Linked DNA regions of Homo sapiens. The protein of the gene in region 1 purifies or fractionates together with the protein of each later gene. This does not show direct contact. Each region holds a gene or a part of one and is shown on either strand. Other genes may lie near its edges.

Evidence for each region.
Region 2: the proteins of PUM3 (region 1) and UTP14A fractionate together in Homo sapiens (co-fractionation; one large-scale study listed by BioGRID). This does not show direct contact.
Region 3: the proteins of PUM3 (region 1) and ZCCHC7 purify together in Homo sapiens (affinity purification with mass spectrometry; 2 studies listed by BioGRID and IntAct, with this or other methods). This does not show direct contact.
Region 4: the proteins of PUM3 (region 1) and WDR36 fractionate together in Homo sapiens (co-fractionation; one large-scale study listed by BioGRID). This does not show direct contact.
Region 5: the proteins of PUM3 (region 1) and DDX10 fractionate together in Homo sapiens (co-fractionation; one large-scale study listed by BioGRID). This does not show direct contact.
Region 6: the proteins of PUM3 (region 1) and ZFP62 purify together in Homo sapiens (affinity purification with mass spectrometry; 2 studies listed by BioGRID and IntAct, with this or other methods). This does not show direct contact.
Region 7: the proteins of PUM3 (region 1) and DDX31 purify together in Homo sapiens (affinity purification with mass spectrometry; 2 studies listed by BioGRID and IntAct, with this or other methods). This does not show direct contact.

What each region holds. Positions count from the first base shown.
Region 1 is NC_000009.12:2,834,096-2,837,595, forward strand, and holds part of PUM3 (pumilio homolog 3), read right to left. Parts: intron 3,307-3,500; coding exon 3,085-3,306; intron 72-3,084; coding exon 1-71. UniProt on the Homo sapiens protein: Inhibits the poly(ADP-ribosyl)ation activity of PARP1 and the degradation of PARP1 by CASP3 following genotoxic stress. Binds to double-stranded RNA or DNA without sequence specificity. Involved in development of the eye and of primordial germ cells.
Region 2 is NC_000023.11:129,926,664-129,930,163, forward strand, and holds the end of UTP14A (U3 small nucleolar RNA-associated protein 14 homolog A), read left to right. Parts: intron 1-2,672; coding exon 2,673-2,945; 3' UTR 2,946-3,089; downstream 3,090-3,500. UniProt on the Homo sapiens protein: May be required for ribosome biogenesis.
Region 3 is NC_000009.12:37,127,074-37,130,573, reverse strand, and holds part of ZCCHC7 (zinc finger CCHC domain-containing protein 7), read right to left. Parts: intron 1-3,500.
Region 4 is NC_000005.10:111,098,848-111,102,347, forward strand, and holds part of WDR36 (WD repeat-containing protein 36), read left to right. Parts: intron 1-1,741; coding exon 1,742-1,874; intron 1,875-3,497; coding exon 3,498-3,500. UniProt on the Homo sapiens protein: Part of the small subunit (SSU) processome, first precursor of the small eukaryotic ribosomal subunit.
Region 5 is NC_000011.10:108,720,569-108,724,068, forward strand, and holds part of DDX10 (probable ATP-dependent RNA helicase DDX10), read left to right. Parts: intron 1-2,428; coding exon 2,429-2,894; intron 2,895-3,500. UniProt on the Homo sapiens protein: Putative ATP-dependent RNA helicase that plays various role in innate immunity or inflammation. Plays a role in the enhancement of AIM2-induced inflammasome activation by interacting with AIM2 and stabilizing its protein level.
Region 6 is NC_000005.10:180,858,477-180,862,716, forward strand, and holds the start of ZFP62 (zinc finger protein 62 homolog), read right to left. Parts: upstream 2,801-4,240; 5' UTR 2,744-2,800; coding exon 2,743-2,743; exon of another isoform or gene 2,634-2,742; coding exon of another isoform or gene 2,633-2,633; exon of another isoform or gene 2,598-2,632; intron 2,204-2,597; exon of another isoform or gene 1,616-2,203; coding exon of another isoform or gene 1,564-1,615; intron 1-1,563. UniProt on the Homo sapiens protein: May play a role in differentiating skeletal muscle.
Region 7 is NC_000009.12:132,667,184-132,671,253, reverse strand, and holds the start of DDX31 (ATP-dependent DNA helicase DDX31), read left to right. Parts: upstream 1-1,270; 5' UTR 1,271-1,319; coding exon 1,320-1,394; intron 1,395-1,580; exon of another isoform or gene 1,581-1,582; coding exon of another isoform or gene 1,583-1,684; intron 1,685-4,070. Other genes in the region: GTF3C4 (general transcription factor 3C polypeptide 4), read right to left, coding at 299-655. UniProt on the Homo sapiens protein: May have DNA helicase activity and RNA helicase activity. Probably have ssDNA and RNA dependent ATPase activity. Plays a role in ribosome biogenesis and TP53/p53 regulation through its interaction with NPM1.

The DNA.
Region 1 (3,500 bases):
TTGTCTGCTTTGCTTCAGTTCTTTCTTCTTCTTTTTGAAGTCATCCCATTTGGGCTTCTTGGCTGCTGATTCTAGTTATTATAGAAATTATTTTCAATTACATTTAACATTCTAAGTGTCATACACCAATACAAATTAGGTAAAAAGGGCAATCACTAATCAGGATCAATGCTCATTCTGGAAGCTAAAAAGGGGAACATACCATCCCCCATATATACTTCACTTTGCTTTCTGAGCAGTTTGTACATTTTACATTTGGTTAAATTTAAATCTTCATTAATTCTTCTAACAGGATACCTATTAAGAGAAAAGGACACTAAAAGAATTACAAAAGTAACTAGAATATTTTAAATATCTTTTTCAATTGTGAAATAAAATTCTACTTTTTAAGATTAAGATCATTGGACTTTAGGTATAATTAACTTCCAATGAAAACAAAAATTAGTCCAAATGAAAACAAGAAAAACAACTTCGAAAATTCACTGTTCTGAGTGCTGTTGTATATTAAGTCACTTATTTCTTACAACAACTCGAAGAGGTAGGTATTAATATTACCCTCTCTTCCATGGTGGGGAAAAAGAACAAAGCAGTTGAGCTCTCTATCTGAGGCCACACAACCTGCAATGGTAGAATTAGGACTCAAACCTAGAAACAACCCTCTGCTGTCTTAGTCATGACAATGAACAACCAAAATTTCCAAGTTCGCCACAAACAGAGTGATACTATAAAAGTCGAATATCTATCACCACTTTTTTGTCTTCAAAATCCAAGTAACTTACCAATTGAACTAATGATGCCAAACAAAGAACAACTTACTAAAATGGGTATTATTTACATGAGTATCTGGCACAGAATCTTTTGGGGGAATTAGTCACTTCTAACTATCTCCCTGTCTCTATAAAAAACTGGGAAAAATGCAAAAAAAAAAAAAAAGAAAAGAAAAACCCTGTAAAACCAAAACCTAGCTATAGCCACTGATAATTTTCCCCTTGCTTCTTCTCCATACATGTTTTAATCTTTAAAAACTCAAAAAGTGGCCAGCTGCAGTGGCTCACGCCTATAATCCTAGCACTTTGGAAGGCTGAAGAAGAAGAATCATTTGAGGCCAGGAGTTTGAGATCAGCCTGGGCGAAATAGTGAGACCCCGTCTCCACAAAAAATTAAATTAAAAAATTAGCCGGGTGTGGTGGTACATGCCTGCAGTCCCAGCTACTTGGGAGGCTGAGGCAGGAGGATCACTTGAGTCCAGGAGGTTGAGGATGCAGTGAGCCATCATCACGCCATTGCACTTCACAGTCTGGGCAACAAAGTGAGACCCTCAAAAAAGAAAAAAATTCAGAATCTGCCTTCACTCAATATGATTAGATTATGTTTGCTCATGAAATTAACATTCCTCAAGAACATAATTTTTAATGGCTATCCAATATACTACAATGTATTTATTATTCCTTTATTGTTTACTTATATATTCATTCCCTGTCTGGTAATACAAAAGATTATAGGCAACAGAGGGCATATTTACCATTATATTAATATGGTATCCTCTACTATACAATAGAGGATAGGAACTGATCCAGGGCTAATTTAATTCCATAAATATTTGGGTACCCTTGACATATGTCATGCTAGGCTGCAGTACATTTATCAGTGTGGGGGTTGTCTAGTAACCAATCTCTCATGTTATTTTATCAGTCTAGTTACTGATACAAAAATATGAGAAAATGAAATCCAGAGTCCCATTTTGAGATATCAGGAACATATCTCCCATAGCAAAAGAAATCATAACTTTCCTCATATCAATGTGAGAAATTAATGTATATGTGTTTAAAATGCAGGCATCAAAAACTCCAGTAGAGAAAGAAAGATTTGGGATCTAGTAGAGAGGTTAGGAAAGAGAAAGTAGAAAAGAGAGCTGGAAGAGAAACTTCTGGCAATTGGGGAGGAGGAAGATGAGGGAGAAAGAAAAAATGAAAAGAGAAGATCAAGACTGGAGCATGAAAAGATCCTGGAGCCCTAATGGGAAACGATGGCATTTCCCCTCCTTCCTCTCTCCCTACCTCCTTGTCTTAAGGCTGCTGTCCCTCTGGTAAGCAGCCCTTAGGCAGGGTAAAAAGCAAGCACCAGGACTAGGGGATGGCACTGAGAAAACCATCCCCAGTGGTCTCAGCTGGCAACAAAGGAGCAGTGTTAAGACACGCTGTGCTGGAGAAAAAGAGAATAAAAGGCACCAGAAAAATTCTCAGGATGTTGCAAAGAAAGTAATGATATGACAATCCACATAACCTGGAAACTGCTTGTTTGAGATCAGTGCAGGACAAAGCACGACAGCGGAATGTTATAAAATAGAGAGCAAAGTTCTGGGTTAGAAATGACCCACTGAACATCGTTGACAGAGATGGGCAGTTTGTTTCAACAGACAAGCACGAGACCTGCCAATACTTCCAATCAGTGAGCAACTTGTCCTGAATCAATTAAAATCAAATCTGTCATGTGTGCACAACACCTTCTCTGGAACTACTATGGATCTGCGCCATCAGAGGGATTTATTGTATTAGACTGGCCTAAGCTCTGTGAAGGCAGGGTCTCTATGTTTCTTGCTCACCAAAGCATCCTTAACCAAGGCTGACACTTAGCTGGGGACAGACTGATTCTTTAAAGCCAGATTCTATGATTAGTTGGGGCCTGTATCCTTACTGATTATTTTTGTGTGTGTGCGTGTGTGTGTGTGTGTTTTGCCCTATCTCCTGGTACAATGCATAGAAAACTCAAATACTCGTTCGATGAACGAATAAATTTTAGCTTATAAAAAGAAATGTTTTATTGAGGTTCCACTGTATAAAGCCATTATAATTTAACTTAACTCCATGGCTAAGGTAATTCAGAAAAGGGCTAAGAAATAAGAAACTCTAAGCACCAGAGGAAAATTGTGAGCATGAAAGATGCTTTGTTGTTTATTTAAGCCACCTACCTGTCCCAAAATGTTACCTGCCAAGGAATAAGAATGTGAGGTTTCTAACGCACCTCCAGAGTCCCTGTGCACAATCGTTCAGGCACTAGTTCAGGCATGAACGAACCAGTACTTACCATCGCTTCTACCATCTGGCTGGAATTTTCTCTTCTTGTTGAATTTATTTGCCGGCTGGAATTTGTTCTTTGGTGATTTGTCCCCTTGCTGCTTATTCTTGAACTGCTTTACACCCTTTTTCCCAAGTTTTGTGATACTTTTCTCAAAGTTCCTAGATGTGACTTTAGGTCCACCTTCTTTAGCAACTTTCCTTGTTGGAAATGTCTTTGAAGAACCAGAATCTAGTGACAATAATAATTATAAGTTCAATGATTCTGGGCCCAAATCTCTTTTATCTATTGGATTATATCCATTACAGAAAATTATACTTTTTAATCCCAATACCATGTCTTACTCTCAAATATGCAACATATAGCCTTTTGAGTAGAACTGGATTTAAACAATCAAAACAAAAATAAAAAATTCTTTCCTTGAT
Region 2 (3,500 bases), on another chromosome or scaffold:
GCTAGGGATGTTTACAAGAGAAGAAAATTTGAGCGTGATTACGGTGTTCAAGTATATCGAAGGTTATTGTATGAAGTCACATAAAGTAGAAGTTAGAGGACATACAGAATTCAAGGCTGCTCTGGGAGTATGAGAATGTGTAAAGGGGACTCAAGAACGAGATTGGACTAGATGACCTTTATGTTCCCTTCAATTCTGAGATCTGTCCCCAGCCAGTATATTGAAATGAGTTACATTTTTCCCTCGGAAGGAATAAAGAATTAATGGCTACAGAACAGAGGTAAGAAGATACACATTTCAATAACATTCTTTTTGATCTTATTTTGTGAACCAATCACTGCAGAAACTGAATCATAACTACTGCAGTCCCAATTAAACCTATATAACTAGAAAATAGGCAGTTACACGATAAGGGAAGGGGGGAAAGGGTGCTTCAGTGGGCCAGGATTCCAGGTGATGGGTAGAGTATGGAGCTCAATAAAGACCACCCTTCCCTTCCAGGGGTCTGTTTGTTTTTTTAATACAGTCATGGCAAACTGACAAATAGTTTTCTAGGAATCTCCCCTGATTTTCATCTTTTTAATAAGTTACTGCAGGTTCCAACATGCAGTAGAATAAAGTGCTTCAAGGTGCCTAGGGGGGACTTCTGAGACTGAATACTTTGTCCAGGTGTTCTCTTTTTCTGTTGCCCTGGTTGACAAGCACAGATGTAGCCGTCAACCCAAATAAGACATTCCCTTAACTTAAAGAGAATCTGTTTCCTTTGCTACTACCAGGACCACCTGATAGTACTTAGCTTCTCTTGAGTATTCCACTGAATGTTTCCAGAGACTACTGATTTTTGTTTGTTTGTTTTGTTTTCAGATGGAGTCTCACTCTGTCACCCAGGCTGGAATGCAGTGGCACGATCCCAGCTCACTGCAACCTCCACCTCCCAAGTTCAAGCTATTCTCGTGTCTCAGCCTCCTGAGTAGCTGGGATTACAGGCATGCGCCACCACACCCAGCTTATTTTTGTATTATTAGCAGAGACAGGGTTTCACCATGTTGGCCAGGCTGGTCTTGAACTCCTGACCTCAAGTGATCTGCCTGCCTCGGTCTCCCAAAGTGCTGGGATTACAGGTGTGAGCCACCGTACCCTGCCAAAGACTACTGATTTTTACATCCCCATTTTCTGCTTACGTGTTTTCCTCCTTTGGCCACTGGGGAAGTGTTGAAAGATTATTTAATGTCTGAAGGTAGCAATGTGGTGGAGGAGTACCAGGCAAGGAAACAGGAGCTTTGGGTTCTGTTCTCCAATGCTGCTCCTCATTTACTTAGGTCCATCACTTCCCCCCTCTAAGCCAAATCTTCAGGCCAAGGGAGATGACCATTGTCAATATCTAGGGCCTTCCAGCTCTACATTCTGTGGTGCCAAAAGAAGATGAAGCTAAGTGGGCCGGGCATGGTGGTTCACACCTGTAATCCCAGCACTTTGGGAGGCCAAGGCGGGTGGATCACAAGGTCAGGAGATCGAGACCATCCTAACACAGTGAAACCCCATCTCTACTAAAAAAAAAAATACAAAAAAAAATTAGCCAGGCATGGTGGCAGGCCCCTGTAGTCCCAGCTACTAGGGAGGCTGAGGCAGGAGAATGGTGTGAACCTGGGAGGCGGAGCTTGCAGTGAGCCGAGATCACGCCACTGCACTCCAGCCTGGGAGACAGAGCGAGACTCCATCTCAAAAAAAAAAAAAAAAAAAAAAAAAAGATGAAACTAAGTGTAACGGCCTGGTAGAGTTCAGGATTCGGGTTCCTTAAAACATCAATCCTGGCCAGGCGCGGTGGCTCACGCCTGTAATCCCAGCACTTTGGGAGGCTGAGGCGGGTGGATCACGAGGTCAGGAGATCAAGACATCCTGGCTAACACGGTGAAACCCCGTCTCTACTAAAAATACAAAAAATTAGCCGGGCGTGGTGGTGGGCACCTGTAGTCCCAGCTACTCGGGAGGCTGAGGCAGGAGAATGGCGTGAACCCAGGAGGCAGAGCTTGCAGTGAGCGGAGATCGTGCCACTGCACTCCAGCCTGGGCGACAGAGCGAGACTCCGTCTCAAAAAACAAAAAAAAAATATCAATCCTAAGAGAGGGAAGGAGGAGACTGAAAGCATAAAGAGGGTAGAAAAGTCATAAAATCCACAGGGATACACAATGGTCTGGATTCTTGCAGTCACAGTGTTACATAGGAAAGCTCACTCTGGGACAACAGCCCTGGAGCTCCTGTAGCTAGATAGGGACAGTGTCACTTGTAATCCCAGCTACTTGGTAGGCAGAGGTTGCAGTGAGCAGAGATCACCCCACTGCACTCCAGCCTGGGCCACAGAGTGAGACTCTGTCTCAAAAAAAAGAAAAACAAAGATGGGCAGTGTCAGGGTGGTTTTTCAGACCCTGAATTGTTGAATAGATGGGGGATCCAGAGCCAACTCAGGCCCCCCTACTCCCAAATGTCATCAAACAGATTGAATTCCTAAGGGCAGATGGGAGCAATGGGACGCCTTGACCTCTCAGTCTCTTCACTTGCAGTCATCATGTGGAACCGTGGCCTGTACCAAAACAGTACCTGATGAAAGCTGCCATTACAGTATACAACTGCACCCCAGGCCTGCCTCATACCAAATCATTCTCCTTCCTTTCCAGGTACGAGTGCTTCCATATCCATTTACCCACCATTGGCAATTTGAAAGGACCATCCAGACCCCCATAGGATCCACATGGAACACCCAGAGGGCTTTCCAAAAGCTGACTACTCCCAAGGTCGTCACCAAGCCAGGCCATATCATTAACCCCATAAAAGCAGAAGACGTGGGCTACCGGTCTTCCTCAAGGTCGGACCTGTCTGTCATACAGAGGAATCCAAAACGAATCACCACACGTCACAAAAAACAGCTGAAGAAATGCTCTGTAGATTGAGTTGCTGGAGGAGTGACAGCCAGGAGCCCTGACTTCACTTCCTTTGGTCCAGTTTTACTCTGATACAGGGTGGATTCCAAAACTGGCTCAGTACATTGCATGTAGTTAAGCCACATTTTAAAAATAAAGGCATTTTTTAATCTATTTACCTGGAGTATATGTTGCATTGTCCCCCAGTGGGATCATTTCGTTCAAGTCAGACACCTTTGGACTCTACAGCATTGCATTTCTCGAGTTGCACTTGTCAGGGCCACCTCCTTTTCTTACCAAGGATTATGTAGTTGGTCCTAAATCGAAATGGAGAAAGTTAACTGTAGTCTGTAACCTTAAATATATCACATCAGATATGATCCACCATTAATAACTGCCAACTTGAAGAGACAGGGTTAATAATGATAAAATATTGTATATTTTAACCTCTGAACCTAGAAAGAGGATGTACAAACTGCAATTGGATTCTGCCCTAGACTGATCCTAAGACCAGGACGGTGCCGAAGCTGGGTTCTGTCCCCACAAGTCTAGCCACAGCCATTTTTTTCACATGTGTGAGCTTCC
Region 3 (3,500 bases), about 34 Mb from region 1:
TTGCAGTGAGCCGAGATCATGCCATTGCACTCCAGCCTGGGCGACAGAGCGAGACTCTGTCTCAAAAAAAAAAAAAAAAAATTGAGATTTCAAAGCTGTGTTCACACCTGCACTCCCAGCTACTCTGAAGGCTAAGGCGGGAGGACCACACAAGCCCAGGAGTTCCAAACTAGCCTTGCTCTATTTATAGGGTAAGACCCCACTGCTATAAAAAAAAAAAAAAAAAAAAAAAAAAAAAAGGAGAGAATTCCGTAAATTACTTAGCTTCCTATATTCTGTCTCTTTAGTGAAACACTATGTCATTCAAGGCTAAAACTTATCTTTTTTTTTTTTTTTTTGAGACAGTCTCACTCCATCACCCAGGCTGGAGTGCAATGGTGCAATCTCAGCTCACTGCAACCTCCACCTCCTGGGTCAAGCAATTCTCCTGCCTTAGCCTCCCAAGTAGCTGGGATTACAGGTGCCTGCCACCACTCCCAGCTAATTTATTTATTTTTAGTAGAGATGGGGTTTCGCCATGTTGGCCAGGCTGGTCTCGAACTCCTGACCTCAGGTGATCCACCCGCCTCGGCCTCTCAAAGTGTTGGGATTACAGGCGTGAGCCACTGCTCTCGGCCTAAAACTTAAGTCTTTTACCACTGTAAGTCACGAGTACTACCTCAGCATTACTTATACCCTACATAGAGGAGATGCTCAATAAATGTTTGATGATTTAGCAATTGATGAGAAAGCAGGTAATGTATGTGCCAAGAAATTACTCTAAATATTATTATAAGCAGGTTTATGAGTATGGAAAAGACCCAACCTCAAGGAGCCTGTAGTCTTTTCTTTTATGTCATACTGCAGTTTTCAGTATGCCATAATTCTGGGAGATATTTTGTTTTTTTCTTGAGTGAGGTCAAGGAAACAGAACACAAAATAATTATGGATACTGTTTAACAATAGGCATTTCTAAAGTACTTGAGATTTTCTCTACACTTTTACAGAAATGAGAAAAATCTTCTCTCTAAAGATTATATGAACCAATCTATCCCCAGATAGTTTTATGAGAGGGATAGTGATTACAGAGTAACAACACACTTAAATGGGCATCAGTACTAAATATGTTGTTTATTAATTGGAAATAGGATTACAGCATTAGTGGATCAAGGAAATAAAATGGAGAATATATATTTGAGTATTTGTAAGAGTTTATAAGAGTCAAGTAAATTAATTTCCAAAAATTCAGAATTTAATTCTATTTGGCTAAAACAGAAAACAAATCCAAGGTTCTCTCTACTTTCTCATCACCATCATTTGCCAAATATGGCACAGTTCGATTTCTTCACTAAATCCAGCACCTAATTCATGTTTTTCCCAACCTATCCACATTGTGCCATCAACTTTAGCATGTCTGTAGATTCTCTAGTGCAAACAGAAAGCAGCAGGGAGTTGTTTCAAAGGAAAGATAATAAGCTTTTTTTTCAAGTTATCAAGCTTTCTTTTCAGTATGTCAAATGTGAGACAGTAAGATACCCAAATGGAAATATTCTGTAGATGTACACAGAGAATTTGAAATCAACAAAATGGTTAAGGAGATGACAATTTGATGACCATAAATACAGAAGTGATTAATGAAACTAGGTGTGATCTCAGGAAAAGGTAATTTAGAGAAAGAATAAGCTAAATGCTTATTTTGGCCTTCTATAGTGTTACGCCTAACCCAAGATCATTTTGTTTCTGTCATCTTGCTCCAAGCTGACAAGTATTACTGGATAAAGTTATGGAATCCTTCAAAGTGAGTTCACTACAAGTTCACATCATTTTAATTTTGACTGAATACTACTTCTAAACAATCCTTTATTCTCTTACTGTTGATTCACTCAAGTGCAATGATTTCCAACTTAAGAGCCTTCAGCCTCCTGGGAAACTGCAGAATTAGTTACCTTAATGGGTACCTAGAGCAACGCATTATAAACACTATTTCTCACATATCAATGTTGTGATTAATAAAACACAAAGTCATGTAAGAGTAGTAGCTTCTTTCTAATATGCATTTTCTCAATTGAATACTAAAATCATAACTACAACCATGGGTGGTCCACAAATTGTTTCAAAGTTACACAGGTTGTCATCTTCAAAATACTGGTAACCACTGCCTCAAAGTATTCCCCACAGCACTTAAACATCCCTTCCACATTCTAAGCTTCCAATTATCCCCCGCCCTCTCCCACTTCTGCTTTCATTTTCCTAAGAAAATCAAACACATCCCCATATGTTCTCTCATCTGCCTCAATCCATCTGAATTTATTCTTTCTCCTCTACCTCTACAAATATTTGATGATTTAGCAATTACTAGTGTCTCTCTTCCTTTTTAGGAATAATTCAACAACACATACACCTGATCCTATCTCTAACCTGGCCCCCAACCCAATCCATCAAACAGGTTTAGTCTCTCCTTCACAAGTTTCTTTCTTTCTACCTACAAACATTATCAGAGCTCACCTATATGGAAAAAACTTTACGCGATTCTGTTCTGTCCTAACTACTATTCTCTCTTTTCGTTTTGCTGTCAAGTTCTCAGGGTTTGCAAACTACAGCCTGAGCCGGCCACCTGTTTTTGTAAGTAGGGCTTTACTGAGAACAGCCACCCCCATTTCTATAGGTATTATTTAAGGCTGCTTTCCCACAAGGGCCAAGTTGAGTAGTTAAGATATCACATGGCTTGGAATCCTAAAATATTTTCTATCTGGCTTCTTAAAAAAACATTTGCCAATCCCAGGGGCTCCAAGCACAATCTACATTCAATGTCATCATTTCTAGGGAAGCAGGCTGCCATTAAAAATTTTGGAGCAGCAATAAAGTACTATGAGTAAAAGAGCATTTCAATACCAGTTTTAACAACAGTGTACAGGGTAGATATAAAAGAAGACTACTTAGGAAACTAGTGCAAGAGACTGAGCATTAGGCATAAAGGGAGGGAAATGAAAAGGAACTTCTTGAAGGCATAAGCATTAAGACTAGATGACTACATGTCACAGAGACATAACTAACACCAAAATTTTAATCCTTGATGATGTAGCTATCAAAATTTGCATTCTCCCCTATAACCTGCCCTAGACTTACAGCTCTTCATATTTTCCTGTCTTTCTGACTGTGGAGTACCTAAAATCCTAATCCTAACACTAATTCCATATATTCTGTGTGCCAGACATTCCCTATGCTTGCCATCTAACTCCTGGGTAAGCAAATCCCATAGGAAGAGACAGTCCCAACAGAGTTGGCTGAATGAGTGCACAGGGCTAATGCCAGAGGTGGATGGAGTACTCACCTGTGGTACCAAGCAGAGAGAGAGGGGGGAAGTAAGATTTCAGGTCCAGAACTGGCTCTAGCCAAACAGGAAGAAGCAGCTATGAATCTGCTTACAGCAGAAGCAGAGTGTCTTTGGTATTCTGACATACTCTTTCTGACGTTCAGACAAACCACCATTAGAGTAGCCACTGGTAAGAGAGTCGCATGAG
Region 4 (3,500 bases), on another chromosome or scaffold:
TAACTCATTTATTTGCTTTATCTTAGGGTAGTATGTGTTTAATTAAAATTTAAAATCTATGTAAACATCTATGCCAGAGATTTTGCCTGTAAATAGTAAGAAATTAAAAAAATCAAAAATCTTTAACGTGTAAGAAAAAAAGTTCTAAGTAAGAAAGAGATAAACAACTTTAGCAAGTTAACTACTTATAAACTGTTTAATGTGCTTACCTCAACTAATGTATTTTCCATTGCAGTTCTCCAACTTTAATGATTTGTTGTATTGTTTTCCCTGTGGAGTGAATATTGATGTATTTTCATACCTGAGTAATTCTTGGTTTGTATTTTCACCTTTTAGTAAAGGAGACTGTAATAGTAAACTTGATCTTGTAATCTGAAGGAAAATATACATCCATTTCCTAGGGATATGAGTCAGTTTCTTTCAACTGTGATAGCTTAGACAGTGGCTATGTTTATGGGATTATGTATCTTTAAACATGAAGAATTTATCCCTAGGATATCTACACCTTTCCTCAATAAAATACTGGGTTCATCATGAATTGAATCTTTTAAGTTCTTTAATCTGGTTACATTTTTAGCTTATATTGCCTCTTGGTTTTTTTTTGTTTTTTTTTTTGTTTTTTTTTTTTTTTTTTTTTCAGTAAATATCCTGAAGATTGCATTTCTGGGAATTATTCCAGGTTCTTGTTTCAGATTAGTAACCCTTTTCTTGTTTTGTTTTTGCTCAAGTAGAGGGAGGGAACAGAATTCCAAAAGTATTCCCTGTGCAGATAGAAGTTAAAAGGGCTTTTATTAGGTTACAGGATCTGGTTCTTACATTCCAGCAGACTCTCTTGAACCAGTATATTCAGGGAGCCATTTGTAGTGACTGACGAATAAAGGCAAGGATCTCTTAAAATAGCATTCAAAGTAAAGTTTATATAATTTTCACCTATACCTGTACATCCTAAACTGTGGTACCCATACCCTGGGATTGTACAGTAGTGTGCCAGATAGTATGTGAACCTAAAGATTAAGTGAAATGTACCTTCTTTGATACACAAATTTACTGGAAAATAGAGTGGAACATTGTTTTAATCATGGAGGAACTGTAAAGTGAAAAGCAGAATTCAAACATAGAAATTTTGAATGTAACCAAAGATTTCAGAGAATTTTTTTATCTTGGAGCAAGTGACCACTGGTGATGCCACCCCCCACTCCACAGGGTTATACGTTTTTTTTTTCTCCTTTATTAGAGATTATTTTGTGGAAATGTGTGAGAAGTACTCTTATTTCACTGAGGTGTGTCTTTTATTTTTGGCATTTTTTGAGTGGCCCATCAAACTTTCCAGATAATTGGCTCTTCGTTCCCTGAAAGAGCTAAGTATAAGCACTTCACTTGGAATATTCACTCCTGTCTGTTGATCAAATTACAGAAACATGAATGCTAATCCTTAGGATCTTTTTTTTTTAACTTTATTATCCTTTTCTGTAAAGTAATTCAAAAGTGAATGAAACTTTTAATAGTATTTTTATTAGAAGTTACAGAAAATTTTTGACAGTCTAAATTAAATTACATTTACAAGTTGCCTCTCATTTATTTTATTTCTCAAGGAATGTTTATAGATTAGTATCTAAGTCTGTGGTTTATTTTAACATATAAATCTTTGATGTGATAGACTTACTTTAAGTGATAAATATATGGTTACATAAAACATTTTAAACTATTTTATAAAAAATATTTATAACTTTCACTTTTGTAGAAGAATACCTGCAGTTGACTTTTGATAAATCAGTATTTAAAATTTCTGCAATTTTGCATCCAAGTACCTACTTGAATAAAATACTTCTGGGCAGTGAACAAGGAAGCCTGCAGTTGTGGAATGTAAAATCCAAGTAAGTATTTTAGTTAGAAAATAATATAGCTGTCACCTTATCCTCATCTACTACTTCCTAATGTATACTTAAGTCTCATTTCTCCCTGCCCTTGTATATTTATTTGGAGGGTTGTCTATAAATAACAGTTGGTCCCCTGTATCAGAGGAGTCAATTAACCTGGGATCAAAAATATTCAAGGAAAAATAAATAAATAATAATACAACAATAAAACATCACATTTTAAAGTAGTACAGTATAACAGCTATTTACATAGTATTTACATTATATTAGGTCTTATAAGTAAGCTAGAGATTATTTAAAGTATATGCATAAATGTGTGAAAGTTATATGCAAATACCACACCATTTTATGTAAGGGACTTGAGCATCTGTGAATTTTGGTATCAGCAGAGAAGTTGGGGAAGTCCTGGAACCAATCCCCCACAGGTAGTGAGATATAACTATATGTTTGCTTTTGGAGTTGTTGCTGGTGGCATCACATATGTGAAAGGTGGCATGTGATCCTGACACATGTTAGACAGCTTCATAAATGCTCACTGAAAAGTATGTACTAATGACCTAATAACTGTAAAGAATTGCTATAGAGAAGGCTCTAATAAAGGTCTATGAGATCCATCAGAAAATAATAATAATGAGATTATTACTAGGGAGCTTCTGATTTTCCATACATGAAGATTTTCTATACATGAAGAAGGTAAAAGATGGAAAGGCAAATCAATAATTTAGTGCTAGCATTTAGAAATGATTTTTAGGGTTAAAAGTACTTCCATAATCTCCCATAGATATGGCAAATATCTAATATTGATGTAGCTAGAGGGCTGGATACATGATTTTGAATACTTCTATCCATTATGTAAACATTTATCAGTAGAAAAAGGTGGCAGCTCACACTTCTTTGTATAGCATTTTAAAAAGCAAACAAAAATATTTGACCATCCAAATTGTTTTTTTCCAAAGTCCTTTTAAATTCAAAAGGGAAAATAAGATTATTAAAGGTTTGATGTTTTAAATCAGTGTTTCATTACAATTTAACAAATACCATTGACTGCCTACTTTGTGCTAGGTTCAGCAATAGTGACTGAAATACTGTCTTTGCCCATTTACAGAATTTAATACATGATTTAATATTTTAATGATAATTATAATGATTTCAGATACCTCTGTTTGCTCCATGGATGTGTTATTTATCATTCATGACTTGCTTCTGAAATTGAGAGCAGCATTACTGTTGTCATATAACAGTCATATAACATGCAAATAATATTTTTATTAAAATATAAGTTATTCCCTTTCATGATGTTTCTATAAAGATACTGCAGTCCTAAATTTTTTTTACTGTAGCCTGTAATATAACATGATTTTTACACACGTATTTTTTTTTCCACTTAGGACATTTAATTTCTTAATGAGGTGGCATAGCATAGTAGTTAGTTTGAGACCTAGAATTTGTCTGGACAATATTACTAACCTTGTGACATTAGCTTAATCATCAGAATAGTGTGTGGAAGAGTAAGAACTTAATAAATATCACCTATTATTATTTCACTTTTTAATGTGTAGCTGATATTGTTTTCCTCCAAAAAAAAAAAAATACAGCTTTCAACTATTTTTCTTCTTGTAGTAA
Region 5 (3,500 bases), on another chromosome or scaffold:
TTGTTTTGGCTTAGTATTTGAGGGATTTTTTGCGGGGGAGGAGACAGGGTCTTATTCTGTCACCCAGGCCATAGTGCAGTGGTGTGATCATGGCTCACTGCATCCTTGACCTCCCAGGCTTAGGTGATCCTCTCATCTCAGCCTCCTGAGTAGCTGGGACTACAGGTGCATGCTACCATGGCTGGCTAGTTTTTTTGTAATTTTTGTAGAGATAGGGTTTCGCCATGTTGCCCAGGCTGGTTTCAAACTCCTGGGCTCAAGTGATCCCCCCACCTCAGCCTTCCAAAGTGCTGGCATTACAGGTGTGAGCCACTGTGCCTGGCCGGGTTTTTTTTTTTTTTTTAAACCTTTTGACCTATAAAGAAGGAATGTTTATTCTTCAGTGGGCTCTTACTGTGGGAGTGGTAAAAACATTGGCACAATCTTATAGAAGCACCTTTGAGATAATCATACTTTGAATATCAGCATGAAATTTCCCAGACTATGGTGAAATATGTGATTACAAGGCAAGGTCTGTATGTTTGGCTTGCTCTTAGGAATTTGAGTGCCTTTACCTTTAAACTGAGTCTAACTACAACATATATCTAAGTGAGCTGTCGTTTTCTATTCTCTGTTAGATTGTATGTTTACCATAACAGGTAATATGTCAGTTATTACATTTTTGAACCTTTTAAATTGCTTTATAGCAGTGTAGGGCTGCTGACTTTCCATTTAAGTGACAGATGGAAAGCCACATGCCATGGATAACATGTTGTTGTTTGCTCATATGTTTAAATACCAGTTCCTAGTTTTATTATTTCTGAATATGATCCATGGCTTAGGTTATTAGTGGACTTTTGGCTCCCTGTTAATTTTTATCATGGTTTTCTGATTTGACCTACCTTGATATTAGCAGATAGGAAAGGCACAGGTCTTTAACACTGTAGGCCATATTTAGGGGACCATTTGTTGCAATAGATTCCAGTAAATTTTATCTATTGGTAGTTGATGACTTTTGCTTTTTGTGATGCTTAGAGAAGGCAGAAAATTAACGTTGAGAACAAATTTTAGTATAGTTGAGTTTGGTATTTTAATTTTTTTAGATATTTAGCTATGTTGTTTCCTTGAGGTATGTAATTTCCTTTAGAAGCCTTTGATACCTAAAGCAGTGCTGTGTATGTAAGATATATTAAAGGTTTTAAAATTTTACTAAAGAAACATGTTTTGAATACCTAATATGTGCAGGTCATTGTACTAGATGTTAAATTGTAGATGTATAAGATGTACTGCTGCCTTCAATAAACTCAGTTTTGGTAGCTGAGAGAGACATAAAAATGTAAGTGCAATACATTGAGTGAAATTCTCTGGATGAGTTTGTGATCCTAACCCTAACAGTGGTGATGGTGATGACATCAAGTTCTCATTAGTTCCCTATATGCCAGGCACTAGTTTTAACAGCATTACATCTGTCAACTAATTTATTCTTACAACAACCCTGTGAGGTAGGTACTCTTAGCATCCCGTTTTGCAAATGGGAAAGCTCCGGTATGGAAAGATTAAATCATATTCGTAAGATCTCACAGCTAGTAAGTGGCAGCCAGATTTTGAACCCCAGCAGTCTTATTTCTGAATCCATGCTTCTCAGCATTACATCTCTCAGTTTCTTTGAACCATGTCAGATAGGAAAAGAGCAGTGGGTCCATGTTATGATGTTACTGTTTATTCAGAGCAATCCTTGATAAAATCTAAGATTTTATTTCCCTTCGATCATTGAGAACTTAATGAAGCTATTAGCTTTGATCCAAGCTGGGAAAGACATGATAATAAATTGAATATTGATCATTGATGGAGAAAACAATATTTTTTAATTTCTTTTTTTGGTGTTTGGTTTATAAAATCCATTTTTATAGCAATGATTGTGCCATATTCTCTTTTAGGAAGGGAGATGGGGACCACATTCCAGTTCTTTCTCTGTAGAGAACTGTTTTGTCCTTTCATGGTCATGTCTTCTCTGGTTTATTTAGTACTTAACATTTTATGAGGTACTCTCATGTAGTTAGTTAATTGGATCCTTACAGCAACTGTGAGTTAGGCCTGGCAGGTACTGTTATCCCCATGTTATAAGGAAGCTGAAGCTGAGAGGGTTGAATTGGAAATTGGCAGGTCTAGTACTTGAACTGTTATCTTGTTTCTGGTCCAGTGCTCTTTATCTTATTCCATGTTACCCTCTTAAAGAAAAAATAGTGTCTAAAATGTTTTCTGACAGGTGTTGAGTGTATTTTGCCTTACTTTTTGGATCAACTAACCTGTTAGTATTGAGTTGTATCTCACAGGAACATTTTCTTTAAAAAAGCTCTAGGAATCTCTGCTCTTGAGAAACTCTTCTATGACACCTATAAACATATCATCAGTGTTGAGATGACTGTTTTCACGTTTTTCCATATTTAAGGTCTCTTGGTCTTGCTGTGGCACCACGCGTAAGATTTCTTCAGAAAATGCAGAAACAACCCACCAAAGAATTGGTAAGGAGCCAAGCCGATAAAGTAATTGAGCCAAGGGCTCCCTCCCTCACCAATGACGAAGTGGAAGAATTTAGAGCCTACTTCAATGAGAAAATGTCCATCCTTCAAAAAGGTGGAAAAAGACTCGAAGGGACAGAGCACAGACAGGATAATGATACTGGTAATGAAGAACAGGAAGAAGAAGAAGACGATGAAGAAGAAATGGAAGAGAAACTGGCAAAAGCAAAAGGATCTCAAGCCCCATCTCTTCCTAACACCAGTGAGGCACAGAAGATCAAGGAAGTTCCTACACAGTTCTTGGACAGAGATGAGGAGGAAGAAGATGCTGATTTCTTGAAGGTGAAGCGGCATAATGTGTTTGGATTGGACCTTAAAGACGAGAAAACATTACAGGTAAGTTTACTCCCAGTGGAGGGTCTTCTATTACATTGTCTTACTATGTGCTTATTGTTGCCTTTTGGGGACTGAGAGAAAGTGAAAACTAAGAAACTTAGACTGGGTTTCTTTGCAATGAACTCTTCCTCCTTTCCCCCATACTTAAACACAGAATAAGTGCCAATGAATTTTCATATTTTTCATAACTTTGGGAGCTCTAAGAGGTTAACAACTTTAATCTTATTTACTGGTTTTCTGATGCTGTGTTTTAAAAGTTGCCAAAGTCCTGATTAAGTCTCAAAGGAAGGCAATGAAGTTTTTTGGTTTATGGCATGAGGATCCTTCGTTAAAATTCTTAAGATACTGCTTTCTGATTGATTAAATTATAAGGAACAGTTGTAATTATTTAAATATAAGTTTTACTCTTAGTGCGACATTTGTTTATGGGAACCAAGCCAGTGTCTTAAATAGAAATTGAACAGTTCTTTTTTAAAGGCTACTTATGAATGTTTATGAAAAGTTTTCCTGTAAATCCTTTGTTTCTCCGTAGCCATCTTCTAGGAGGAACAAAAGAAATAATCCATTTAGATAAAGCACTTGTTTTCTAGGATGCTTTTGTAGGTG
Region 6 (4,240 bases), on another chromosome or scaffold:
CCTGTAGTTCCAGCTACTCGACTTGGGAGGCTGAGGCACAAGAATCGCTTGAACCTGGGAGGCAGAGGTTGCAGTGAGCCAAGATAGCGCCATTGCACTCCAGCCTCGGTGACAGAGCGAGACTCTGTCTCAAAAAAAAAGAAAGATCACTCACACTAGTTGCAGTGGGAGAATGGATTGAGGCAAGACAGGACTGAGTCCTGGAGTTCCAGGAGTAAGTCACTATAATCCAATCAAGACTGATTTGGTAGCTAAGTCATGTGTCCCTGATGACACAAGTAAGGAATTACCCCCAAAACACAACTCTTCCATATAAAGACCCAGAAACTCCTGAATTTCTTAAAAGTTCTAAAGGCTGAATGGACAAGCCCTTTCTAACCAGTTTTCAACACGCAGCATGAGTCTAATAGCCTGGTTACATCAGCCAAAAGCGTCAGACATAGAACGCCACCCACTCCTTCCAAACTACATACGACCAACAACCTCTGGGCACTCTTCCGAGCTTCTTGTTCATGCTTTATCGCCAAGGCCTAGAAAAGTGAATGCAAACAGTTAAGAACCGGCCCTACATTCTTGCTGTCTCTGCCTCCGAGACTCAGGAGCCACTTTTCAAGAGCCGAGACAACTCGTTAGAGAGGAGCCGTGGCCTGCTCTGGCCGAAAACCCCTTCCTATTAACAGACTGCAACTAGCCCGGAACGACTTTCAATTTGCAGAGTCCAACCATATTCCACAAGACAATCTACCACCTCAAGGTTCACGCGTGGATTCTACACCTTAAATCCTTGGATACTGTCTTTGATTTGGAGATGAGCAAAGAAAGGAAACAAGACAAGAGAAAGTGACAAAATGCTTACCAACCCAGAACAAAGAGTACCTAGGAGGGGCAAAATGTACAAAGGAAAGATGGGACTAAGGAACAGAGAAGTGATATGCAGATGAGAAGAGAATATGGTTTGTGTTCTAGCTACTGTTGCATTTGTCTTATGAATATTAGGAATGTATATGATTAACGTGAGTTGGTTCTATTGCTTAAATATAGAAATAAGAATGAAAGGTGATTTTTCCTTAAAGTAAAAAACTGAAATAGAACATTCTCATGCCAAGTAGTGGAGAAGAGATTTCTAGTTGTCGTAGGGGAGGAGGTGAGCAAAGGCGATACTAAAAGGGAGGCTGATTTTCTGAATCAAACCCGGCAGGGACTGGCTTGGAGTCATTGACACAATTAGTCTATTAGGCTAGTGTAACACTAAATATAGGGACAAGTCTCAGAAGGGAAGAACTACTTACGTCTTATTTGTTCTTTAAACACTCTACATCAGTGATTTTGATAACGACTTGTCATATGTAACAATCTGCCAATAACTGGTTGAGTTAATGTAAAAAAATAATTTTCTAACGGCTGTTTAGTTTCTTCTGTAAAAATCCCTACCCTAATACACTGTATTGAGTATACCATTGTTTGAAGTAACAACAAATTGGAGACAACCCAAATGCCCCCGAATAGATCTAAAAAAGGACAGAACATCGAAAACATCCAAACAATGGCCCATCCAATACTTACCACAGCTCTGTAAAACAAAACGAAACAAAACACAACTTCTGTGTTCTGACATGTAGAGACCAGTAAGATAAAGTGAAAGAATCAAGGAGTTAGAAGGATTTCTATCACCTGTGTGAAAAAAGGGGGAACTAACTAGTTATATTTGCCAGTATTTGCAGAAATTCGGAAAAGATACAAAGGAACAAAAGTGGTTACCTAAGAGGGTAGGGCCTAGGAAGATACCTAAGCGGGATGGGAAGAAATCTTTCACTGGTAACTTTTTATATTTTTAATATCCCAGCCATATGAATATATTACATATTTCATATTATTATTTTTTTTAAGCCTTGAGCTTTCACAAAGAAATGCTCCTGCTGGCCAACTACTTTAAATGTCTTAGAGCAGCACACCCAGCCCTGGCATTCCCCAGTGATCTTTTCCGTCCCACCCCTGGGTTCCCGCAGGCTGTCCCCTGGGTCTAAGAAACTCTTCGACCTTCCTCTCCCTACCTAGTTAACTCCTTTTCTGCTTGCAGGAACACGCGGCAGGTCGCCTCCTCCCCGGTGCACCCGTCTGTATGCAGGTGCGCTTCCCCAGATGAGGGCTAGGACGCACCTCCGGGGTCTCTATTCACACCTGCAGCGGGAGCTTATCATCATCACTCACCGACCAAAAAAAAAAAAGAAAAAAAGGTGGTGGGGTGGAGCGGAGGGGAAGAAGGTCGAATCAGATCACCCCTAGAGGTCTCTCTGCCCTCGCAATCACTCTCAAGTCCTAGAGTACCAAACTTAACTGCAGAGGGAGCACGAAATGGTGGGTATTTTGAAGCGCTAATTTTTAGGGATCCCCTCCCATCCAAAACAGGGATGAATAGTTGAGGAACACCGGAGCGGGGCCCTGGCCCTTCTCGGAACGTTGAGCAGACCTAACATGACGCTGGTCCGTTCAAACGTCGCAGTTGTGGCCCACACAGAGCCCAGTCTGTTCCAGGGGCGCGCCCTGCACCCCTCTGCCTGCCCGAGGTCTTCCCTCCCCTCCGCTCCCCAGAAACGCACCCACTGAGACATGTGCGGGGAGGGGGCACGCTTACTCCCACATCCCGCCCGAGACCCGCGGAGCAGCCAAGACCCGGCCAAAAAGGGGAGGGCGTGGCAGGCAAGGGCCGGGGGCGGGAGCGCGGGCGGCCGCGGACTCACGTACTGGCTGTGGCGGCGCCGCGGGAACCCGGCCGCCAGCGGGACAAAAGCGCGGACCGCACGGCCGGAAGAACCCGCGCCGGCCCTGGGGCACTTCCGCGCCCTCTCTGGGACGCTGGAGGACTGACTCGATGGTCCGGGCCGACGGCGCCGGCGGGAGGGAGGGAGGGGAGCGCCTCCTCGGCTATTTATTGAGGACCAGCTGCAGGGCGCGCGCTCCAGGCGCGGCCAGGAGGCCGTGGGCGGGGCTTTCTGTTTCCGTGCCCATTAGCTTCTGGGGTAGGCTGGGGGAGGGGCACAGGTAATAAAGTAAATACCTGCCTACCTGGTTCCTGAACACGTGATTCATTGCCAGGTGTGGGTGCGGGGACGTTCCCGGAAGTGGGGGCCTGGCGGGAAATGGGGGAATCCGGGAGGGGCGCAGGACAGCGCTGGGCTGGGGACCCATTGCCTTCTCAGCTGGTTGGGGGCTGGCCCGAGAGCACCAGCCCTTCCTGGTCGTCAGCACCAGAAGCGCCCCCGGTTAGGCACTGGGGATGCGGAGTGGGAGCGCGCCCCTGGAGCCGTCCCTGGGACCGGGCCACGCTCCCACCCGGGGCGCCAGCTTGGCAGCGACCTCGCCCCCTGCCCACCCCACCGCCGGTGTCGGCTTCCAAACCCAGGGCCTAAAATGACTTTGAAGACCTTTTTTTTTTTTTTAAATTAATGTTTGTGGGTACATAGTAGGTGTCCCTATTTGTCGAGTACGTGAGATATCTTGATACAGACAGGAATGCAATGCGTAATAATCATATCAGGGTTAATGGCGTGTCCATCACTTCAAGCATTTATCCTTTGTGTTACAAGCAATCAAATTATATTCTTATTTTTAAATATACAACTAAGTTATTGGCTATAGTCAGCCTTTTTTAAAAACAGCAACATCTAAATATTTTTCATATTAAGTTTAAATAATTGCAAAGGGTATATTTTTGGCATGCTGTTAATATTAAGAACAAAATTGCTTTCAAGTGTATCCAATGGAATCTAAATCCCTGAAGATTTGGTATTATCCACTTTTAACAGTCATAAGTTTTACATCTTTTAGGGTTTTTTTCCTTGAACTTTTATGTCCCTCACCGGCTTTTTATTCTACTGTAAAAATATTTTCATTCTATGTGCCTCATTGAATTTTATCCTAGTGTAAAATAGTTCTATGCATTGTTTTATTGTTTATTGTTTATCCTAGCATATATGTCCGTAACGAAAGTAGATTACATTTTTTCTTAGTGTTATTTTCTGGATTATTAGCAAAATTATATAAATATTTCAAAATGTTTACTGTTAATTCTTAGACAAAAAGTGAAGTGCTTTGGAAGCACAACTTGTAATGAGATGGATTTTGTTTTACAGCTCAAATTATTTATATTATTTGAATGAATTTTACATATTGCTGGGGTGAGCCGGTGTTTGGCATCAGCTCGACGCCTATTTTTCATTTTTATACATGTGGGTGCTGAGAC
Region 7 (4,070 bases), about 130 Mb from region 1:
CGGGCCCGACGGAGGGGCGAAGGAGGGGTTCCTGGGACTCAACTCCGGGAAGCCCCCTGGGTGTGTACCTGTGTTTGCGGCGGCGGGTGACCTGGGGAAACAGGGTGCAGACAGCTGCAGAGCTTTTCTTTTTTTTTTTTTAAGCTGTGGTAACCCTGGCTGCTTAATAAATCCCCAGCGCTCGGTGCGAAGAGGGAAATCCCCGGACAGAGTGTGGGATCGGATTCCCCTGGGACGGATGATGCGGCCGCGAGAGGGGGACAGGGGAAGACCCCAGGGATGGCGGGGGATGACTTACTTTGAGGAGACAGCTGTTGAGCGGTGCGGGCACCGAGGTGCGGTGGATAACCAGGTCCTGGCCCGGGTTGTGCACGTCGCAGATGAGCTCCAGCACAGCGATGCTGCGGGCCGTGGACACAGACACGCGGTGGTCCTCGGACCAAGCCAGCGGTTCCAGGCCGCTCACCGCATACTGCAGCTTCACGGCCGGCTCCCGCCGAGTCACCATGAGGCGGAATGCAGCGCTGGGCCCCGGGGCCGCGTCCGCTGCTGGCTCCTTCCCGCCCGCCTCGCCGCCCCCCTCTCCCTCCTCCTCCCCAGACGGCGCAGGCCCGTCGTCCGCGGGCCCCACCCGGGCCTGGTCGGCCGTGTTCATCTTCTCTCAGGTGCAGAGGTCGGACGCCCTGGCGCTCCACGCAGTCGCGCGACCACCTCCCGGACCGCCGCCGCCACCCCCAGCGCCCTCCGCGGCGGTTTTCTCCCCTCAGGCCCCGAGCGCCGCCGAGCCAAGAAGGACCCCGCCGTTGCCAGGCAACGCGGCCCTACCAGGTGGCCAAGGAACTGCCTGTCCAGAAAAAGGACAGCGAGCGGGGAGCCCCGAGGACCCCCTTTTCCCTGCCCAGGGATTGAGCTCCAGAGCCTGTTAGGGAGCTACCCAGACAGGCTTTAGTTCCTAAAGTGCTGAGGAAACGCACGGGGCGGTAAAGGGGAGGCTCGTCGGTGAGATGGCGCCGGATCTCGCTTCTCAGAGGCATTCAGAGAGCTTCCCCAGCGTGAACTCTCGGCCGAATGTAATTTTGCCAGGCCGCGAGGGACGCAGAGAGGGGCTGCCACCAGGCGGGGGCACGCGCGGTAGTCTTGTCCCTACCCGCCCGGTGCCGCCGTCCCCGGCTCCCCTCGGGACGAGTCCGTACAGCTGGAGCCGTTCCGGACCCGGAAGGGGCGGTGGCGCAGGGTCCTCGCGCGTCCCACGTGGGGTCCCGGGCCCAGCAGTCTGCGCACCGGGCTCGCTGCTGCACCACGCGTCACCCACGCAGACCATGGCAGCCGCCGACGGTTCGCTCTTCGACAACCCCAGGACGTTCTCCAGACGTCCCCCAGCCCAGGCGAGTCGGGTGAGTTCTGACCCGGCTTCAGCTCCGTCCCCACCCGCGGCCCGGCTGTGGGCGCGCCGCGAGCTGCAGCCGTGCCTTGGAGTCGGGTTTCGAGTCATTCACGGAGTTAAGCGGGAGAAAGACACCGGGCAGCTTCGGGACAAGTTGCGCCGAAACACGTGTCTCTAACCGGAACACCACCCGCAGGGATGCGCCTGGAAGCGGGGAGTGGAGCGGTGTGGAGGGGCGGGGAGCTGGCTCCTGCGCCTAGAAAAGTAAAGGAAGGAATTAGAGGCTGTTTCCCGTGGAAGGTAGGACCTGAAGTTCCGGCGCAAGTCCCAGGCCAAAGCTTAACTTCTCTAAGCCAGTTTCCTCGACTGAGTGCGGACTAAGCTCTGATTTTTTTTTTTATCTTGCCCACATTCCTGTCTGGGAAGAGTCATGCCCTACAAACCATAAATTCTCATCAGATGGCTTTCATTTAACCCTATATATCGTGACTTACTTTCCAAACTGGCTCTGGCCTAACATTATGTGACAAAGAAGAAAGTTAAAATATTACCCCTAAACATGTTTCTTTGCCACATTTTGAAATGGCTTTGCAAAGCTGTTCTTTGGGGGGGGCGGGCGGGGTGGACATTTGCATCTGCAAAGAATCTCTATTAACATAGCTAGATCTTTTTCTTCCAGGCCCTCCCAATCCTAAAGAGATTAAGAGTCTACCACCTTTCAAAGATCTGAATAGGAAACACTTGTCTGTTGTCTCTAAGGGCAGCCACTAAAGACTTGAAAAGAACCTTGGTCTCCACAATCTTTTATCTTAACCTGAGCATTTTCTTTGTATCCATCCCAGGTGTTTAGACAAACTCAACCGTCAACTAGAAAATGTTTAAATTTACCTATAGCCTGGAAGCCCCCGCTTTGAGTTGTCCCACCTTTCTGGACAAAACCAGTGTATTTCTGAAATGTATTTGATGTCTCATGCCTCTCTAGAATGTATAAAACCAAGCCGCGGCCGGGCGCGGTGGCTCACGCCTGTAATCCCAGCACTTTGGGAGGCCGAGGCAGGCGGATCACGAGGTCAGGAGATCGAGACCATCCTGGCTAACAAGATGAAACCCCCGTCTCTACTAAAAATACAAAAAATTAGCTGGGCGTGGTGGTGGGCGCCTGTAGTCCCAGCTACTCGGGAGGCTGAGGCAGGAGAATGGCGTGAACCCAGGAGGCGGAGCTTGCAGTGAGCCGAGATCATGCCATTGCACTCCAGCCTGGGCAACAGAACGAGACTCCGTCTCAAAAAAAAAAAAAAAAGCTGCACCCCGACCACCTTGGGCACATGTTCTCAGGACCTCTCGAGGGCTGGATCATGGGCCATGGTCACTCATACTTGGCTCAGAATAAGTCTCTTCAGATATTTTTGAGTTTAACTCTTTTGGTCGCCATGAGGAAGGTTCGTTTGTTTCAGGAATGAGGACTGGCAACTAGGAGTTTTTTTGAAGAGCTTTCAAAAATGGGACAGATTTTCATCCCCATGCAATGGAGGGGGATAGGAAAATCGGTTTCATTGATATAATCCCATTGCTAGAGAGGGGTAAGATGCCCTAGAATTAACTTAAGCAGTAACTGAAAACTGGTTTCTAGGATAGTTGATTTGTCTCTTAGAAAAGAGGACTACAGGACAGAAAGACTGATTAAAATCATAAAGTGATCATCAAACTTTAGGATTTAGATGTTTGGCAGTAAGGAGTCCAGCTAGCCAAGTGTAGCTGCATCTGGGTGGAGCGGGGAGAAGGATAGAAGAGCCACTGGGAGCATGGGATTTGGAATAGGATACACTTGGGATTCGGATGCTGCCCTTGCTGCACACTAGCTCTGTGACCTTGGAGCAAGTCACTTAATCTTTCTGATTCTCACTTTTCCTATCTATAAAATGAGAACAATAATTTCTACTCCATAGAAGACTATTGTAAGGATTCATTGAGATAGTATACATGAAGACTATACGTTGTCTGGCCCATAGAAGCACTTAATAAATGCCAACAGTATAAAGTAGTTTTGGCTCCATTTTGGATAATAGATTGCTACATCAGGAGGTCAGTGGGGTGCTTGTGTCCTCTGCAGAGCCTGGTAACTAACACATAAGAAGCATTGAGTAAATACATATAGGCTACCTAGTTTTATGGTTATCAAAAGGGGATTAATTAATGCAGTGATGACAGGTGTCTGCGGTGGCCTTGTCTAGATCTACGTTTTTTGTTTTGTTTTGTTTTGTTTTTTTGAGATGGAGTCTCGCTCTGTCTCCCAGGCTGGAGTGCAGTGGCGCGATCTCTGCTCACTGCAAGCTCTGCCTCCTGAGTTCACACCATTCTCCTGCCTCAGCCTCTTGAGTAGCTGGGACTACAGGTGCCCACCACCACACCCGGCTAATTTTTTTGAATTTTTAATAGAGATGGGGTTTCACTGTGTGTTAGCCAGGATGGTCTCCATCTCCCGACCTTGTGATCTGCCCACCTCGGCCTCCCACAGTGCTGGGATTACAGGCGTGAGCCAGCCAGGCCTAGATCTACATTTTCATTGATGTCGTGAATGAGAATGATGGATATGCTGATGAGACTTGCCAGTAGCCTGAACTTGAGATGGGTAGCTAATATACTGGATTTAGAAAGACTAACAGCTTAAATTATGCTGTATCTAACA